Linked DNA regions of Homo sapiens. The protein of the gene in region 2 interacts with the protein of the main gene of each other region in a biochemical or structural test. Each region holds a gene or a part of one and is shown on either strand. Other genes may lie near its edges.

What was found.
Region 1: of the proteins of MARK2 (region 2) and PINK1, one has a biochemical effect on the other in vitro, tested with the Homo sapiens proteins (one study listed by BioGRID).
Region 3: of the proteins of MARK2 (region 2) and RNF41, one has a biochemical effect on the other in vitro, tested with the Homo sapiens proteins (one study listed by BioGRID).

The regions. Positions count from the first base shown.
Region 1 is NC_000001.11:20,646,958-20,650,457, reverse strand, and holds part of PINK1 (serine/threonine-protein kinase PINK1, mitochondrial precursor), read right to left. Parts: intron 2,144-3,500; exon of another isoform or gene 1,954-2,143; coding exon 1,826-1,953; exon of another isoform or gene 1,464-1,825; coding exon 1,227-1,463; exon of another isoform or gene 25-1,226; coding exon 1-24. UniProt on the Homo sapiens protein: Serine/threonine-protein kinase which acts as a sensor of mitochondrial damage and protects against mitochondrial dysfunction during cellular stress.
Region 2 is NC_000011.10:63,842,098-63,845,820, reverse strand, and holds part of MARK2 (serine/threonine-protein kinase MARK2), read right to left. Parts: intron 1-3,723. UniProt on the Homo sapiens protein: Serine/threonine-protein kinase. Involved in cell polarity and microtubule dynamics regulation. Phosphorylates CRTC2/TORC2, DCX, HDAC7, KIF13B, MAP2, MAP4 and RAB11FIP2. Phosphorylates the microtubule-associated protein MAPT/TAU.
Region 3 is NC_000012.12:56,215,340-56,219,062, forward strand, and holds part of RNF41 (E3 ubiquitin-protein ligase NRDP1), read right to left. Parts: intron 1,275-3,723; 5' UTR 1,090-1,274; intron 1-1,089. UniProt on the Homo sapiens protein: Acts as E3 ubiquitin-protein ligase and regulates the degradation of target proteins. Polyubiquitinates MYD88. Negatively regulates MYD88-dependent production of pro-inflammatory cytokines.

The DNA.
Region 1 (3,500 bases), on a different chromosome or scaffold from region 2:
TGCGGCTACTCGGGCAGATGGTCTCTGCAACAGGAAGGGAAGCTGTAGCTAGAACATCTGTTAACACAGTCTCAACCCAAAGCCTGCTTTGTTAGTGAGGGTCTTCCCTTCTCTGGTCCCAACCCAATTCTTCCTCTACCCTATCTCCTACTGATGCCCTTCACTCAGGTGACAAATACTGCCTGTCCCCTGCCCGTGCTCCAAGCTTTTCCATGTGTACACCTCTGCATGGGGCAGCATGCATTGTTGAAATAGCCTTTCCCCCTGGGTGGAAAGCCTAGTGCCTCTTGTGCACAGCTATCTGGTCCCTTGAACCAGGTAAGTAGTCTCCTCTATCATTTCATAACTGGTTGCAGCTGTTGTTCTAACCTTCACTGCGCACCAAGATAGCAGGCCACGTACAGAGAGCAGTTAACGGAGTGGCAGAACAGTGCTGGGGTGCAGGTATGGCTCAGCTCTTTGCACTAAGCCTGCCCCTGAGCCAGCTGCCACTCCAATTATGGCTTCGGATAGGTCTGCCTTTGCATTCCTTTATATTAATTTCACAATGTCCAGATCTGCTCTCAGGAGATGTTTTCCATCTCTCTCTGATCAGTTCTCAGCTGCTTCCATGAGCTACATCTCCATTAAACATTTCTCAAAAATGCCTCCTTTTCTCTCTCTGAATAGCCTTTTTTTTTTTTTTTTTTTTTTGAGACAAAGACTTGCACTGTCACCTAGGCCAGAGTGCAGTGGCGCGATCTTGGCTCACTGCAACCTCTGCCTCCAGGGTTCAAACGATTCTCCTGCTTCAGCCTCCCGAGTACCTGGAATTACAGGCGTGTGCCACGACACTCAGCTAATTTTTGTATTTTTAGTACAGACGGGGTTTTACCATGTTGGCCAGGCTGGACTGGAACTCCTGGTCCCAAGTGATCCACCCGCCTCAGCCTCCCAAAGTGCTGTGATTATAGGTGTAAGCCACCGTGTCTGGCCTCTGAACAACTTTTTCAGCAACTAAAAAAGCCACAGGAGTTGAACTGCTAGGATTCTGACTATGCTGTGGTGGCTAGTGCTCCTACTCCTACCTACATTAAAATCTGTTTTTTGTTCTCTTGTAACTAGCCTTTACCTTCCTAACACAGAGGATCTGTCACTGTGGCTCTGGCCCAAACCTGACCTTCACTCTGGAACGAGAACAGAGGTTTCTACCCACACCGTCCCCTCGAAGCCGGGGACAGCCTCACCTTGCTGGCCTCTCGCTGGAGCAGTGCCCTCACCAACTGTCTCACGTCTGGAGGCACTGACTCGGGCAGTGCAGGTAGCTGAGCCTCTTGGTAGCTGCGGCTTTCAAGGTGGGCCTTGCCCTGGCCGTAGAAGGGATTGACAAGCCCGAAGATTTCATAGGCGATGGCTCCCACTGCCCAGGCATCAGCCTTGCTGTAGTCAATCACTGCCCTGGGGCCAGGACGGGCCGTGGACACCTGCTCAGAAGCAGTGGGTGAGACATCACGCTGCCCGCCCATCTAACCTTTTCATGTCCTGCACATCACCTGATCCATGGGCTAATCTGAACTCTGTCCCAAGGAACCCAGAGCTTGAGTGAGCTGTGGCTCAGACCCAGAAGGGGTCTGCTTAGACCACCTGGTTTATGTGACAGGACTTGCATTCTCCTGGAACATGAGGGAACGCCGGAGGAAAGCAAAGTGGCAGGGAAGGAACTTGTGCCAAATTATGGGTCAGAAAAGATGGAGGTGTTGGGTTATCACAAGGCATCGAGTCTCCTGCATTCAGTGGACATGTGGGGGAAGGGCTGCCGATGGCGCATGACACACTCGGGACTCACCTCTGGGGCCATCAGACAGCCGTTTCCGCCCCGATCCACGTACCAGCTGCTGAAGGGCAACTGCAGGCCGATGCTCTCATCAGCCAGGCAGCAGCCAAAATCTGCGATCACCAGCCAGGGGCAGCCGTCTGGGAAGGAGCAAGCAAAGTGACCATTTCTCCTCCCCTCCTTCCCTCTGAGAGGCCCTCCTATGTCCCTACTAAAGCCACCAGCAAGACATAGCTGACAGGGGCTAATGGCTCAGTGTTGGCCCAGGAGGTCAGCAAGGCCTGAGAGCTGATCAGAAGGGCCTGCTGTGCGAACACGGAAATGCCTCCAGTAAGTACAGGCTGCAAAATCCCCAGGCAAAGGACTGTGTGGCTCAATTTAAATCATGTTCTAGTAATTGGAGCTGTCCCCAAGACCAAAGGAGCTAGAGCTTGGTTCAAATGATCTCCAAGGGCCCTTATACCCCAGGAGACTTTGATTTGAATTTGAAACCCCAAATCCAAACCTAAGAACCAGGTGCATTAAGAATCAGTTATTGCCGGGTGTGGTGGCCTGTAATGCCAACATTTTGGGAGGCCGAGGCGGGTAGATCACCTGAGGTCAGGAGTTCAAGACCAGCCTGGCCAACATGGTGAAACCCCTGTCTCTACTAAAAATACAAAAAAACTAGCCAGGCATGGTGGTGTGTGCCTGTATCCCAGCTACTCGGGAGGCTGAGACAGGAGAATTACTTGAACCTGGGAGGTGAAGGAGGCTGAGACAGGAGAATCACTTCAGCCTGAGCAACACAGCGAGACTCTGTCTCAGAAAAAATAAAAAAAGAATTGGTTATTTGTAAAAGGGTCCACACAAAATTCCTTTAAAAAGCCAGTTCCTGGCTGGGCGCAGTGGCTCACGCCTGTAATCCCAGAACTTTGGGAGGCCGAGGCAGGCGGATCACGAAGTCAGGAGTTCCAGATCAGCCTGACCAACATGGTGAAACCCCGTCTCTACTAAAAATACAAAAATCAGCCAGGTGTAGTGGCGTGTGCCTGTAATCCCAGCTACTCAGGAGGCTGAGGCGGGAGAATTGCTTGAACCCGATAGGCAGGGGTTGCAGTGAGCCAAGATCATGCCACTGCACTCCAGCCTGGGCGACAGAGTGAGACTCCGTCTCAAAAAAAAAAAAAAAAAAAAAAGCCAACTCCCAGCTGGGCGTGGTGGCTCATACCTGTAATCCCAACATTTTGGAGGCTGAGGTGGGTGGATCACTTGAGGCCAGGAGTTTGAGACCAGCCTGGCCAACAGTGAAACCCCATCTCCACTAAAAATAATAATCCCAGCGCTTTGGGAGGCCGAAGCAGGTGGATCACGAAGTCAGGAGATAGAGACCATCCTGGCTAACATGGTGAAACCCCGTCTGTACTAAAAATACAAAAAAATTAGCCGGGCGTGGTGGTGGGCGCCTGTAGTCCCAGCTACTCGGGAGGCTGAAGCAGGAGAATGGTGTGAACCTGGGAGGTAGAGCTTGCAGTGAGCCGAGATCATGCCATTGCACTCCAGCCTGGGTGACAGAGCGAGACTCAGTCTCAAAAAAAAAAAAAAAAAAAAATCAAAAATTAGCTAGGCGTGGTGGCACCTGCCTGTAATCCTAGCTACTCAGGAGGCGGAGGCACGAGAATTGCTTGAACCTGGGAAGCAGAGGTTG
Region 2 (3,723 bases):
AACCCAGTAGGTGGAGGTTGCAGTGAGCTGAGATCCTGCCACTGCACTCCAGCCTGGGTGACCAGAGCAAGACTGTCTCAAAAAAAAAGACGAGCAATGACCTTCAATGGCCTATAACAAAAAGGAAGGGGGCGGGTGGCAGTAACATTCTGCTCAGGAGTTAGCACTTTCAGGGTTAACCTGGGGATAGCCTGGCTCTCCAGCAGTGGGAAGAGGGTGACTTCCTCCCCCACAGGTTTGTAAAGGCTTACTCTTCCCTTTGCAGAGACAGAAGGGAGAAAATGCATAGACAACACTTCAGTGACTCACTCATGTTTGATGAAAGCTGGGAGGAGGCCTGGAGAATCCAAGCTACAAGCACAAAACGTACAAATACTGGAATCTCCCATCAAGAGAAGGAAATTTAGCCACCTATCTGGTTTGTCATTTTGCTGAACTTCCACTGAAGGAGGAAGGGCCAGCTTTAAACTCCACCCACCCTTTCCACATCCTTCTCAATTTTTGCTTTGATGGGAAAGTGGGGAAACTGGCGGCCCCACCATGGCTAAAAGAGAATCAAATCCTTTCTATACTTCCTCTCAAAGCAGAGGCCTAGTAGCTCCAGTCCACAGCTTAACCAAGCAGAGGGAATAGGGGCTTGTCCTGGTTACTGTAGGAAAGCCTCATCAGGCAGTCTCAGGGAAGGAAGATGACCACCCTCCTCACCCTTTCCATCTGCTGAGGTTACTTCATTCCAATCCATTAATGGGCTTCAAAGTGCTGCTGGGGGGAGTCCATTTAGCAGAGAAGCTATCACGGGGCCAAAGGTGGCGCCCACCCCCTACCCCATTTGTCGATAATGGGCCACAAAGTCTGAGGCTTGGCTGCACTCTAGACATAAAATATTCATTCAAGTCGACATAATACATAAGTAGGAACCTCATGGAAGCTCCTGGGAGAAGAGAAATGCCAGCCAGGTGGCTAAGTGCTCAATGGGAAAGAGTTCATGAAGGCCTGGGTTAGTCCTGATCAAATGCCCACTGAGAATTGGGTTGTTCTGTCCAAAGGGGAAACAATCTAGTCTGAGAAGTTCTGACTCCCAAAAGCTCGAACCCTGCAAACCTCTTAGGCAAGCAAAGTCTCAATCTTTTCCTACCTCATAGGCACCAACTCTGCTTAGGACATTTATGCTGAGAAAAATCTCCAGCCCAAACTTTGGTTGGTCTGAAAGATTAAGTTATCCTTGTGCAAACTTTATTTTAATCTGCAGCAGGCCGAGTTTCAACAACTGTCTTATATCCATCTGTTTAGCTACTTTCCGAAGTCCATAAATTGGAGAAAAGTAATTTTTTTTTTCTGAGATAGTGTCTTGCTCTGTCACCCAGGCTGAAGTGCAGTGGCACAAACACAGCTCAATGCAGTCTCGACCTCCCCAGCTCAAGCCATCCTCCTGCCTCAGCCTTCTGTGTAGCTGCAACCACAGGCATGTGCCACCATGCCCAGCTAAATTTAAAAAAATTTTTTTGTAGAGATGGAGTCTCACTTTATTGATCAGGCTGGTCTTGAACTCCTGGCCTCAAGCAATCCTCCTGCCTTGGCTTCCCAAAGTGCTAGGACTACAGGCATGAGCCATGGTGCCTGACCAGAGAGAAATTATTCTAATTTACTAGGTACAGTTACTTTTCAGATTCAAAGGTTACGAACTCCAAGGACTCCCAAAGCCCTTGCTCTAACAACACTTCCTTCCTGATCTCTAGGGCCAAGCCGAAAGTGACACTATTTGGTCTGACATTCACCCACATTCCTGACCAGAAGGCAGCACCACCAAGGACCCCCTGGCCAGAATCAAAGGACAGAGTGAGAATTAGCACCAGGGCACACTGCTGCACAGCTCAGAGTGTGGACTGAGATGCTAGCTAGCCGATCCAATCTACCTAAGTTACACCAAAAGCAAAAAAAAAATATTTATCCAGCAGATCACCTGAGGTCAGGAGATCGAGACCAGCTTGGCCAATATGGCAAAACCCCGTCTCTACTAAAAATACAAAAATTAGCCAGCATGGTGGTGGGCGCCTGTAGTCCCAGCTACTCCCAGGAGGCTGAGGCAGGAGAATCGCTTGACCCGGGAGGCGGAGGTTGCAGTGAGCCGAGATCGCATCGCTACACTCCAGCCTGGGCGACAGAGCAAGACTCTGTGTCAAAAAAAAAAAGAGTTTTATATATATATATATTTTTATCCAGAATCAACAATGGGGGTCCAGTGAGAGTGTTTGGAGTAGTTCAGCTGTTCCTTATAGGATCTTGTAACTTTGTTTTCTTCACCAGTACTTCTAAACTCCCCTTCCTAGAACTGAGAGAATAAACAATGCCGCTCACTGCCTAGAAGCCTGACAGCAGCCCCCTCCCTTCCCACTGCAGCAGAAGTGGGGCAAGTTTTCTCTCAATCCCTCTCTCATAGTTTCTGAGGCCCAGAGGTGGGGCAGGTCCCAGATGGAGTAGCCTCTCCCCCAGGTGTTATGGAAAACTCTAGCAGGTGAACTCTGGAAGCTGGACCTTTCTCCAGGCTTGCCTGTGACTGCTGCTGCTGGCTGGAAGACAAACAGTCATCTTGCTGATTGCTTTCACAACTGCCAAGCTTCAGGCCAGCAGAGTCATTTGGAAAAGAAGTGAACAAAAAGCTCAGCTCACAAACTAAGAATCCCCCAAGCTACGAGCCCCAGATTAGAACCCTCCTTCTGCAAAAGCAGGAAGTCTATGGCTGTGAAAAAGCACATCTGGAATCAGGTGTCACAAAAACCATCTTAAAGACAGGGCTTAACTTTTTTTTTTTTTTAATCTCCTACTTTCACTGTTATAAGCGAAGTGGACAGCACACAGGCAATCTCCCTGTAACGCAAGGTTTATTTTTATGCTTCAACATTTTCAGTGTCTGTGTGTTTCAGAGTGATTAAAGGGCTCCTGGAAACAGGTTCTCATCAGCCACATTTTTAAAGAAGAGGGAGAGGAAGAGCAAGAAAAGAGACTGGAGACAACCAGTGGTGTTTGTTTACCTATTTTCTGGTAAAACCAGTTTTAAATTTAAATAAGGTGACAGAGGACCTTTAGGGGAGGAAATCAGCCCAACTAAATCCCCTTTTTAAAAAAAATAACATTAAGACTATAGTAATGACCAAGCTTCCATGACTACTTTATCTAAAATCACAACAGGACCAAGAAGAGGTTTCTTTCACTTGGTGGCATGATCTATTCTCGGAGGCCAGTGTTTGATATACCTGGCCTTGTGACCTGAGGAGCTGCTGCTTGTCTTTTTTCCCGTTTTAAAGAATACAGGAATCAGGCCCGGCGCAGTGGCTCACACCTGTAATCCCAGCACTTTGGGAGGCCGGATCACGAGGACAGGAGACTGAGACCATCCTGGACAACATGGTGAAACGCTGTCTCTACTAAAATCCAAAAAATTAGCCGGGCGTGGCGGTGTGTGCCTGTAGTCCCAGCTACTCAGGAGGCTGAGGCAGGGGAATCGCTTGAACCCAGGAGGCGGAGATTGCAGTGAGCCAAGATTGTGCCACTGCACTCCAGCCTGGCGACAGAACGAGACTCTATCTCAAAAAAAAAAAAAAAAAAGAATACAGGAATCTGTCTGGAATAGGTGCATCCAAGGTTTTCCAAAGTCCCTGCTTTTACTGGAATGAGACTTAATATTAAATCGATACAGTGACTGGCTACCCTGAGAACAACAGTAGA
Region 3 (3,723 bases), on a different chromosome or scaffold from region 2:
GGAGAAACTGGAGACCGGAAGAACATCTAAGTCAGGAGAGTGACGGTAAGAGTCTGAACTTAGGTGGTGGTGGTGATGGGGATAAAGAAGAGAAGAGAGGGCCGGGCATGGTGGCTCATGCCTGTAATCCCAGCACTTTGGGAGGCTGAGGCAGACGGATCATGAGGTCAAGAGATCAACACCATCCTGGCCAACATGGCGAAACCCCGTCTCTACTAAAAATACAAAAATTAGCCAGGCGTGGTGGTGCGCACCTGTAGTCCCAGCTACTCGGGAGGCTGAGGCAGGAGAATCGCTTGAACCCAGGAGGCGGAGGTTGCAGTGAGCCGAGATTGCACCACTGTATTCTAGCCCAGTGACAGAGCACGACTCTGTCTCAAAAAAAAAAAAAAAAAAAAAGAGAGGTCCAAAAGAGCAAGGACTCAAACAGCGGCAATGGCGCCATGCCCCTTCTTTGGGCTCCCAAAGGTCAAACCCAAAGAAGAGGTCAGTAAACAACTGGCTGGGCGCAGTGGCTCACGCCTGTAATCCTAGCACTTTGGGAGGCCGAGGTGGGTGGATCACCTGAGGTCAGGAGTTCAAGACCAGCCTGGCCAACATGGTGAAACCCCATCTCTACTAAAAATACAAAAATTAGCTGGGCATGGTGGTGGGCACCTGTAATCCTAGCTACTTGGGAGGGTGAGGCAGGAGAACTGCTTGAACCCAGGAGGTGAAGGTTGCAGTGAGCTGAGATCATGCCACTGCACTCCAGCCTAGGCGACAGAGCAAGACTCTGTCTCAAAAAAAAAAAAGAAGAAACACATAATCCTTGTCCTCAAACTAAGGTGTAGGCTTGAGCCCAATGAGTACATAGGAAAAAAAACACATAAAAACACATAAACGTATTAAGCAAATTATTAACAAGTAAAAGTCAATAATTTATGTAAGTTGTAAATATACAAAAAAGAACAAATGGTACAGATTAATCACAGAAAGCTTTCTGCAGAAAGAAGTTTTAAGAACTGGACTTTCAAGGGCAGAAGGAATCCCGAGCGACAGAGAAGAGGGTTGAGGCCTGGAATGGGATTCTGAATCAAAGCTCTTTACCTTCCAAGTGTTGGGGGGCAGGTTCCCTGTTCACAAGGCTCCAACCCCCTGATGCCTCCACTCAGTGCCACTGAAGAGATTCTCCCAGTAACCCATCTTGTTGGCTATTCTCCGACTGAGTATTCCTTCCCAGTGACAAGCTCCATCGCCCAGGGGATGAATGTGATGTCACAATCAGGAGTACTCTAGTAATAGGAACAAGGAAGAGAAAGGAGAGTCAGGAGAACTACCTCCACTTGGCAAGGAGACTGGACAGATGGATCTGGCAGTTGGTTGGGGAGGATGAGACAACTCCATTAAGCACTACAGTTTTCAGTGCTAGGCAAATAAGACTACCTTCTAAGGAGGGAGCTCACCAGCTAAGGAAGCACACACACGGGGTCCAGTAGATTTGAACATAGCTGGGAGGGGGAAAGAAAAGGACAAGAGAGGCCGGGCGTGGTGGCTCACGCCTGTAATCCCAGCTCTTAGGGAGGCCAAGGCGGGTGGATCACGAGGTCAGGAGATCAAGACCGTCCTGGCTAACACGGTGAAACCCCGTCTCTACTAAAAATACAAAAAATTAGCTGGGCGAGGTGGCAGGCGCCTGTAGTCCCAGCTACTCGGGAGGCTGAGGCAGGAGAATGGCGTGAACCTAGGAGCTGCAGCTTGCAGTGAGCCGAGACCGCGCCACCGCACTCCAGCCTGGGCGACACAGCAAGACTCCGTCTTAAAAAAAAAAAAAAAAAAGACAAGAGGAAAAGTAGAGGAGTTGTTGGAGATTTAAGATTCTTTTATTCAGTGCACATAACTACCAGTAATAATGATTCCAAATCTGTGACTACAAAATGCATAGATCCAGGTTGCGATGGCTCACGCCTGTGATCCCAGCACTTTGGGAGGCCGAGGCGGGTGGATCACCTGAGGTCAGGAGTCGGAGATGAGCCTGGCCAACATGGCGAAACCCCATCTCTACTAAAAATATAAAAATTAGCCGGGTATGGTGGCAGATGCCTGTAATCCCAGCTACTCAGGAGGCTGAGGCAGGGAGAATTGCTTGAACCCAGGAGGCGGAGGTTGCAGTGAGCCAAGATCGCGCCACTGCACTCCAGCCTAGGCGACAGAGCAAGACTCTGACTCAAAAAAAAAGCAAAATGCATAGATCCATAATACATTATGTGTACAGGATGATGCTTTAATGCAGAGGTCCCCAAATCCCCAGATGGACCAGTACCAGACTGTGGCCTATCAGGAACCGGGTCGTACAGCAGGAGGTGAGCAGGAAACAAGCGAGCATTAAGGCCTGTGCTCCATGTCCTGTCAGATCAGCAGCGGCATTTGATTCTCATTGGAGCATGAACCCTATTGTGAACTGCCCATGCGAGGGATCTAGGTTGCCCACTCCCTATGAGAATCTAATGCCTGATGATCTGAGGTGGTAGAGTTCCATCACAAAACCATCCCCTCGCCCACCATCTGTGGAAAAACTATCTTCCACAAAAAGGCTGGGGATGCTGCTTTAATGTTTCCAAAGTGCTTTCACATAAATTATTATTATTATTTCGAGATAGAGTCTCGCTCTGTCACCTAGGCTAGAGTGCAATGGCGCGATCTTGGCTCACTGAAGCCTTGGCCTCCCGAGTTCAAGTGATTCTCCTACCTCAGCCTCCAGAGTAGCTAGGATTACAGGCACCCACCACCATGCCCGGCTAATTTTTGTATTTTTAGTAGAGACGGGGTTTCACCATGTTGGCCAGGCTGGTCTCGAACTCCTGACCTCAGGTGATCCACCCGCCTCAGCCTCCCAAAATGCTGGGATTACAAGTGTGAGCCACCGCGCCTGGCCCACATAAATTATTATTATTTTTTTGAGATAGGGTCTTGCTCTATTGCCCAGGCTGGAGTACAGTGGCATGATCATAGCTCACTACAGCCTCGCCTTCCCAGCAGGCTCCAGCAATCCTCCCACCTCAGTCTCCCAAATAGCTGGGACCACAGGCACACACCACCATGCCTGGCTAATTTTTGTATTTTTGGTAGAGATGGGGTTTTGCCATGTTGCCCAGGCTGGTCTTGAACTCCTGGGCAGGCTCCAGCAATCCTCCCACCTCAGCCTCCCGAAGTGCTGGGATTACAGGCACCAGCCACTGCGCCCACCCCCAAATCTACACATTTAAACAAGTCAAGTAACCCTGCTGTAGTTTTTCTGTTGCTTCAACTGTCAAGTAGGGAAAATGATACCTGCCTTATATATTAATATAAGGTATATATAATATATACATATTTATTATATATATATATGTTATTTTTTTTTTGAGACAAAGTGTTGCTCTGTCGCCAGGCTGGAGTACAGTGGCACGATCTTGGCTCACTGCAACCTCTGCCTCCCGGGTTCAAGCGATTCTCCTGCCTCATCCTCCCAAGTAGCTGGGACTACAGGCATGTGCCACCATGCTGAGCTAATTTTTGTATTTTTAGTAGAGACGGGGTTTCACCATGTTGGCCAGGATGGTCTCAATCTCCTGACCTTGTGATCCGCCCGCCTCGGCCTCCCAAAGTGCTGGGATTATAGGCGTGAGCCACCATGCTTGGCCTATTTTTCTTTTTTTTTTTGAGATGGAGTCTTCCTCTGTCGCTCAGGATGGAGTGCAGTGA